Homo sapiens: one gene and its partner. The protein of the gene in region 1 interacts with the protein of each later gene in a biochemical or structural test. Each region holds a gene or a part of one and is shown in the gene's direction. Other genes may lie near its edges.

What was found.
Region 2: the proteins of ENKUR (region 1) and TRPC5 form a complex in vitro, tested with the Homo sapiens proteins (one study listed by BioGRID).

What each region holds. Positions count from the first base shown.
Region 1 is NC_000010.11:24,995,340-24,999,268, reverse strand, and holds part of ENKUR (enkurin), read left to right. Parts: intron 1-3,399; coding exon 3,400-3,623; intron 3,624-3,929. UniProt on the Homo sapiens protein: Adapter that functions to localize a calcium-sensitive signal transduction machinery in sperm to a calcium-permeable ion channel.
Region 2 is NC_000023.11:112,076,143-112,080,071, reverse strand, and holds part of TRPC5 (short transient receptor potential channel 5), read left to right. Parts: intron 1-3,929. UniProt on the Homo sapiens protein: Forms a receptor-activated non-selective calcium permeant cation channel. Mediates calcium-dependent phosphatidylserine externalization and apoptosis in neurons via its association with PLSCR1.

The sequences.
Region 1 (3,929 bases):
GGAGAAAGTGGAAGTAGAGAATTGGGTAGAAAAATAGAATGGAGTGTGATAAATTGCCCCCAGAATAGACTTTAGATTGGGTTTGGACTATCCAATGAAGCCCACATGCATCACCATCTTAGTCCCTAGCTGTGGGGCTTCAATTATAAACAACAATTATAGGAAAAGTCAAGACCCCAGGGACAGTATCTGACTAATGGGCAAGATTGCCCAGCATCTAAACCCTGTCTGGCCTTTTCTCCAAGAGATGAAAATTACAACCATTACTACCAGTTGTTGAAGCAACTACTGGGCTCATTTTGAGTACGGGCTTTTACTCTCCCAGACCTTTAAGACTAACTGGACTGCAATGAGTTAGATGTAATGGAGGAGACTTCATGAATAAGTGGTAGAACCAGCTTAGGGCCCCATGCTTATTTTAATGCTGTGCTCTTGCTGTACTAAAATTTTTAATTTTTGATCAAGTAGCCTTGTGTTTTTATTTTTTACTGGGCCTCAAAAATTATATACTTGATCCCAGTTATGGAGTCTTTTGAATGATTTCAGGAAAGAAAGCTATCAGGGAAAGGGAGAGTAGATGAAAAGTGATGTGTGACAGGTATGTATGGAAGCAATTTCTTCATAGCCCAAGTATGTCTTCCCAGATGTCTTAGGGCAATAAAGAAAAGAGAGCACCTGGGCAACAAAGCAAGACCCCGTCCGTACAAAAAAATTAAAATAAAAAAAATTAGCTAGGTGTGATGGCATGCACCTGTAGTCTTCACTACTCTGGAGGCTGATGTGGAAGGATCGCTTGAGCCCAAGAGTTCGAAACTGCAGTGAGCTATGATCAAGCCACAGCCTTCTAGCCTGGACAACAAAGTGAGACCCCATCTCAAAAAAAGAAAGAGAGAGAGAGAGAGAGAGAGAGGAAGGAAGGAAGGGAGGGAGAGAGGGAAGGGAGGGGAGGGGAGGGGAGAGGAGAAGAGAAGAGAAGAAAAGAAAAGAAAAGAAAAAAGAAACGAGTCTGTCTCTTCAAAATGTTGGCTTTTTATGTCTGCTGGCATTGAGGAAATAATGCAACATCTCAAGCCCGGCTAGCGATGTACATTTTAACAAAAGTGAAACTACTTCTCTTTATGGCAGTATTTAATGTCCCCAAATCCTCTCTCAACCCATATCTCATGAAAAAAGGTGAGGGCACTATCAGGCAAGATGGCAAGATGGAAGAAGCAAGTGTGGAAATACAACATTCATGCTTAATTCGTGACTTCAGAAGTCTCTTTTGTATCTTCCTCTAGTCTTGGCCTGTTGTGACCCAGCATTCTATGACCAACAATACCATTTGAGAATATAGGAAAATGTTAAAATGGAATTTGATGCTTTCAATGCCTTAGGACCACTGGTATCCCTTGGGTCCTCATATAGCCTCTCTAGGGTTAAACATATGATATAACACAAACATATATATATATATATATAAATCCTTTGTGTCAAATAAGAAAAAAGGAAGAAGCCTATCATTTTGTAAACATTGTAAGGCAAAAGCAAACCCAAAATTTCATTGGCCTTTAGAATAATTCATCAATTCAGGGTATTAGGGCTGGGCACAGTGGCTCATGACTGCAATCCCAGCACTTTGGGAGGCCAAGACAGGAGGACTGCTTTAGCCCAGGAGTACGAGACCAGCCTGAGCAACAAAGTGAGACCCTATCTCTATAAAAAATTTTTTTTAATTAGCTAGGTGTGCTGATGCACATCTGTGGTCCCAGCTATATGGGAGGCTCAGGTGGGAGGATCACCTGAGCCCAGGAAGTTGAGGCTGCAGTGAGCTATGATTGCATCACTGCACTCCAGCCTGGGTGGCAGAGGGAGACCCTGTCTCAAAAAAAGAGGAAAAAAAAAAAAAAAAGGAATGCAGGGTTTTGCAAAAGCTTTAAAAACTCGGTCCAATGAGAGTTCTGGAGGACAGTTCTGGAGAACTAGGAGTCCAACATCAAGATGTCAGAGGATTAGTTGATTTTTGCTTTTCTTTTTTAGGAGTATTTTTGTTTGTTTTTATTTTTGGAGATAGGGTCTATGTTGCACAGGCTGGAGTGTGTGGTGGCTATTCACAGGCATGATGAAAGCACACTGCAGCCTCACACTCCTGGCTTCAAGCAATCCTCCTGCCTCAGCCTCCCAAGTAGCTGGGACTGCAGGCATGCAACACCACACGCAGCAGGGTTGGTTTCTTCTAAAGCATCTCTCATTGGCTTGTAGATGGTTATCTTTTCTCTGTATCTTTACGTGTTCTTCCTTATATGTATGTCTGTGTTCAAATTTCCTCTTCTAAGGACACCAGTCATATTGGATCAGCGCCTTCTCTAATGACCTCATCTTGACTTAATTACCTCTTTAAAGACCTTTCTACAAATACAGTTATATTCTGAGATACTGGGGGTTAGGGCTTCAACATATGAATTCTAGGAGGACATAACTCAGCCCCTAACAAGAGGCTAATCCAGTTCATAGACTTTTAACTGTAAGTATTGGCTTTGCTGATAATAAAAGTTATATAAACTAATAAAAAAGGTCAAATGATGCAGAAATGAATAAAGTCAGTCCTTAGTAATTGTGATGGGGTTAAAATTGGAAAAGGCATTTTCAAGACAGTTGTTGCTTTCAGTTCTTAAAAATAAATTATTTCACATTTTTGCATTGTGGCAAACCATTTGGCTATATTAAAATAGATCAATGGGAATGATCAAACTGAAGAGGCTGTGTAAAAACGGCCAATAAGCAAGAAATACTTCTTCCTTGTATTTATATACTGTTCATATATATATATATACACACACACACACACACACATATATGATCTTTTTTGAGACAGAGTCTCACTCCGTCACCCAGGCTGGAGTACAATGGCATGATCTCGGTTCACTGCAACCTCCGCCTCCCAGGCTGAAGCAATCCTCCCACCTCAGCCTCCTGAGTAGCTGGGACTAAGGGTGCACACTATCATGCTTGGCTAACTTTGCATTTTTTGCAGAGATGGGGTTTCACTGTGTTGCCGAGACTGGTCTCAGACTCCTGAGCTCAAGCGATCTGCCCACGTCACCGTGGGCCACCGTGCCCGGCCTCCTCAACATATTAATTGATTATGTTGCCCTTAATTTATTTCCATTTTAATTACTGACTTTTTTTCTTTTTAAAAAATTATTTTATTGAGGCCTGATTGACAGGTAAAAAGCTGTGCATATTTAATGTCTACAAGTCAATGAGTTTGGGGGTAAGCATAAACTTCTATCTTAAATATTTAAATATATTATGACTGCAACTTCAATATACAAGTGGTGAAATATCTGGATATTATAAATAGCACTGAGTAGCAGTGTTTGTAGTTTAATATTAACAAAGAAATGTTATATTTAACAGAAAAAAACTTTGATCGGAACGTGCCCAAAAAGCCTGCTGTGCCATTGAAGACTGATCATCCTGTCATGGGAATACAGAGTGGAAAAAATTTTATAAATACAAATGCAGCTGATATCATCATGGGAGTGGCTAAAAAGCCTAAACCAATTTATGTTGATAAAAGAACTGGAGACAAGCATGATCTTGAGCCTTCAGGACTAGTTCCAAAGTACATCAATAAAAAGGTAGCCTTGTGGTATATTAATAAGAGGGCTGAAATTCAAATAATTTAAATATGGTGTTCATGATGATCATCTATGTTATCATTATTAGTGCTCTCATTGGACACATTGTCTACTTTGCTGATTCTCATTCTTCTGCAATCTGTGTTTGGTCCAAATGTAATGGGATGAAGTTACAAAGAACCCATAGTAAACAATTCCATATAGTTCAGTAGATAAAAGTTATTGTTTTCCTTAATTTTGATTATTAACATATTTAACAATTTTAATAAACATTCTCTGAAAGATATTTTTGGTTAGTTGGAAATG
Region 2 (3,929 bases), on another chromosome or scaffold:
TAAGTATTTTCTTAGGTTAAAATTACACTTTCAAATAGATATACTAAAGACCGGGTTGCAGACAGGTAGGAAAGAACTGGCAGCATCATAATTGGGGAAAAACTCAAAATATCAGCACGAATGAAGCCTACAGTGTAGGTTTTGCTCTGTTCTTGGTGATGTGAGTATCTGGCTGTTGAGGTAAGTCCTGATGGTTACCCAGGGGATAAGCATGTGAGCAGGTTCAGGGATTCAGAACCAATGTAGCCCCCGGCTTCACTGATACTAATTCACCTGGCTTCAGTGTACATCTCAACATGGAGACCTGAACCAGATATCTGCCATCCTTCCCAGCCACAAGAGCTATAATCCTAAGATTCTGTTCTTTCTATAGCTAACAACTAAAACCGGAATGGCACGCAGAACCACAGTACTTAGAGAAGACTAGGCCAGGAAATTAGAGATGCAGAAGGGAGGAAGATGAGAGGAATATGAGAGAACCGAAGATGTTTTGAAACAAACAGAAAGAAAACTATCCAGGTGTTTGCTTTGACTGGGAATGGAATTAATCCAGAAATCAACTCATATGTGAAGCATCTTAAAATTGCCTGTATTTGACTTGCAAACACTGTGTAAACAATGATAGAATTCCATAGTACCAGGGAATTGGGAACCTTGGAGTACATTCTCAGTGTTGCTGTCTCATTTCTCTCCTTACAATATTAAATTCCAATCTGCAAGCCATTCAGGTGCTTAGTTATTGAATGGATATTTCAAATGTGTCATGATGCTTTCCTGTAGCCTGTTTTCGAATATTCTAATTTATTTTTTGCCATGGCTCCATCACTGAAGGTGGTAGATTGAAGCATTTCTGCCTGCTTTACTTCTGCCAAAGGTTCCTGTTTTCACCTTAGTATACTAAGCTGTTCAGATGCCTCCTGCTAACTGATGAAGAATATAAGGCGCAGAATCTCTCTCCCCAAAGTACTCTGTGCCACAAGGTGCCACTGGCCTAATCTGGCCCAGTCATTTGCCAGGTTTGCAGGGAAAGGTATGACAAAGTTTGCAGCCTATAGACAGAAATAAAGCCTCATTCTAGGCAGAAGTTATTCCTCATCCCACAGATGAGGGATAAGCTAAGGCCAGCCATCATGTCCAGAGCCTAGTAGCTGACATATCCACAGTGTCATCCTTTCTAAAACTCACGAAGCTTTTCTTCTGTTGATGGGCCCCTCAAACTTTGTCCAGTGAGACCAGCAGAGCCATACTGCCAGCAAGGAATGATTCCTGAATGACTCAACTGTGGTCTTATAAACAAACATGTACATCATGCTCAACTGAGTGAGCACAGATGATTTAAAGAAATTATAAAAGCTGATAGGGGCTAAGAAAAATTGCAATTTGCTGGGTGAAGGGAACTTTGCAAGTTTCTTAGGTTTGGTTTTCTGTCACCAATTCTGGAGTTGGCCCTTGGATGGTGGTGGCCAATGCAATTGCCCCAGGTTTTTGCCTTAGCAAAAGGAAAGAAAAAATAACGATAAGAAACAAGCGGGGATCTTGGAGGGGTCAATCCTCTCATTTCACCTATAGAGAAATTGAAGTCTAGAGAGTAGAAATGACCTGCCTAAAACAGACTACTAGCTAACAACAGTGGCAAAACCACAACCCAGTACTGTTTGCTGATACGAAATACATTTTCTGAAGTTCTGTGGAGATCTTCCCAAGAAATCGAGAGGTAACTAAAGTCAAGTTTACCAAGATCACAGCCCTCTACTTCCATTCCATATGTATGTATACGTGTTTATATTATATGCTGCTGTCATATCTTTGTGACTTACCTTCTTGACCACCACCTCCCCCTAACACACACACACTCACACACACAATCCTATCTTGCTAGCTAAGAAAACATTATATGTGTCTATAGCTAGCGTATTCAGATGGAAGGCAGAATTAAACATGACAAAAATTTAGCTGCTCACATTTATGTGTCTGATCTGGCTCACACCACCAACAGCAAGGCATCTAGAAATCCCAGTCTGTTCTGCACCATAGTAGTTTTGGGGAATGGAAGCTAGCAGAATCCAGTGACTATGGCTCTGGTTTAGTATACTCAGTCTCAGAATCAGCCCCCCAAATGCATGTGCAAATACACACACATGCACACACACACAAACATGCACATACAGTCACACTCTTTCCGAAAAATTAAAACAAAGAAAATAGAAAAGATAAGGCAGGTGGTTTTTAGAGCAGAGTACAAGAAGAAGGAAAGGTTTGCAGACGGATATTCTTACCTTCCCCCATTCTTTAGCCTTATTGCCTAATTTTCATTAATCCCACCCTAATTTATTTTAGGATCTGAGAAAATAGAGCAATGCAAACATGTTTACTACAGCCCAGAAGGATGATCTGAAAAACCTCCACATTTGAGTGAGAATATCACAAGGATAGGGAAAAGGCTAGGATGTAGTGAGCTAGAGCCTTGCTACTCCAAGTGTAGTCCCCACACCAGGATTGCCACCATCCCCTGGGAGCTATCTATAAATGTAGAATCTCAAATCCTTCCCCAGACCGACTGAATAAGAATCTGCATTTTATGAAGATCCCCAGTGATTCATTTTTATACTAAAATTTGAGAAGCACCGGGCTAGAGCTTATCCAAAAAGCATCTGAAAGATATTTGAAAATAAACAATTACCTACTGAGCATGTAGGGACAATTCATGTGGCTTATCAATTAAAAAATAAAATATAAACTTTTTCCAGGTCCACTTATCTTATTATTCACTGTAAAACCCTTCAGTGTGGGCAAGAGAGTTCATGTAAAGGGAGTGAGATCATAGGATTTGTTTATTTACCAGGACGACTTGGGTGTGGGAACTCACACAGACCTGAGTTCAAATCCTGGCCCTGCTCACGAATTACTAGCTGTGTAAACATGCACTTTGCCTCTAAGCCTCACAGTCCCCATCTATAAAATGGGATTAATAATAGTACCAACTGGCACTGGGCTGTCATGAAAAATTAAATAAGACCGTATAATGCACTGGGATATGGTGAACAATCAATAAATAGAAGATATAATTCATACGATTTGGCTAATAATTTTAGTTTGGTAGAAAACCAACCACTAGATGTGATATATTGGGGCACCTAGCATTATTTCTAATTGACGTGAATCTTACTGGGTTTTCTACAGATAGAATGCTAAGATATACAACAGTAAAATATATTTAAATATGATGGAGGCCACTAGAAACAAATATTTTTTCAGAAGGAATTACAGGTGTCCCTAGTGAAATCACTCCATGGAAGAAGACTGAAGTCAGAAGTGGCCCTGTTCTATGAAGCATATCTCAAAATATTACCAAGTTAGAAAGTCAAAAGTGAGGCATTTTCTGCATGTTTGCATATATATGCAGCATGAAAACACACACATACATACACACACACGGACGCATCATTTGATGGACAAATTATAAAATAATTCAAGGCCAAAATGACATTCTAGGAGCAGAACTAGGTTTCTGCCTGATAAAATCTTTAAAATGCACAAATAATAACCTCTACTTCGTAACTTGCTCATGTTGCACAGTTTAATGGCTTAGGTATATACTATAGCTATTACTATTTTGTAGGTGAAAAAAAAAGAGCAACTCCTACCTCTTCCCAGCCCATGGTGCTACCTACCTGCTCAATTTTCTCACCAGTAAAATATGATACACGTAGTACTCATAAAGTCCAAGAAATCACCAGGCACTTGATTCTATAAAGACTTATTGACTGGCATGTGCAATCTGGGCAACCTGATTGTAAAGACACAGAGACAGACACTACCACCTCTGGATCCCAGTCCTTTGGTATGTTCCAGACCTCCAGCTTCCCCTGATTTTCAATAGTATCAGATTAGTAAGGTATCAATAATCTTATAATAGACAATATTTATAT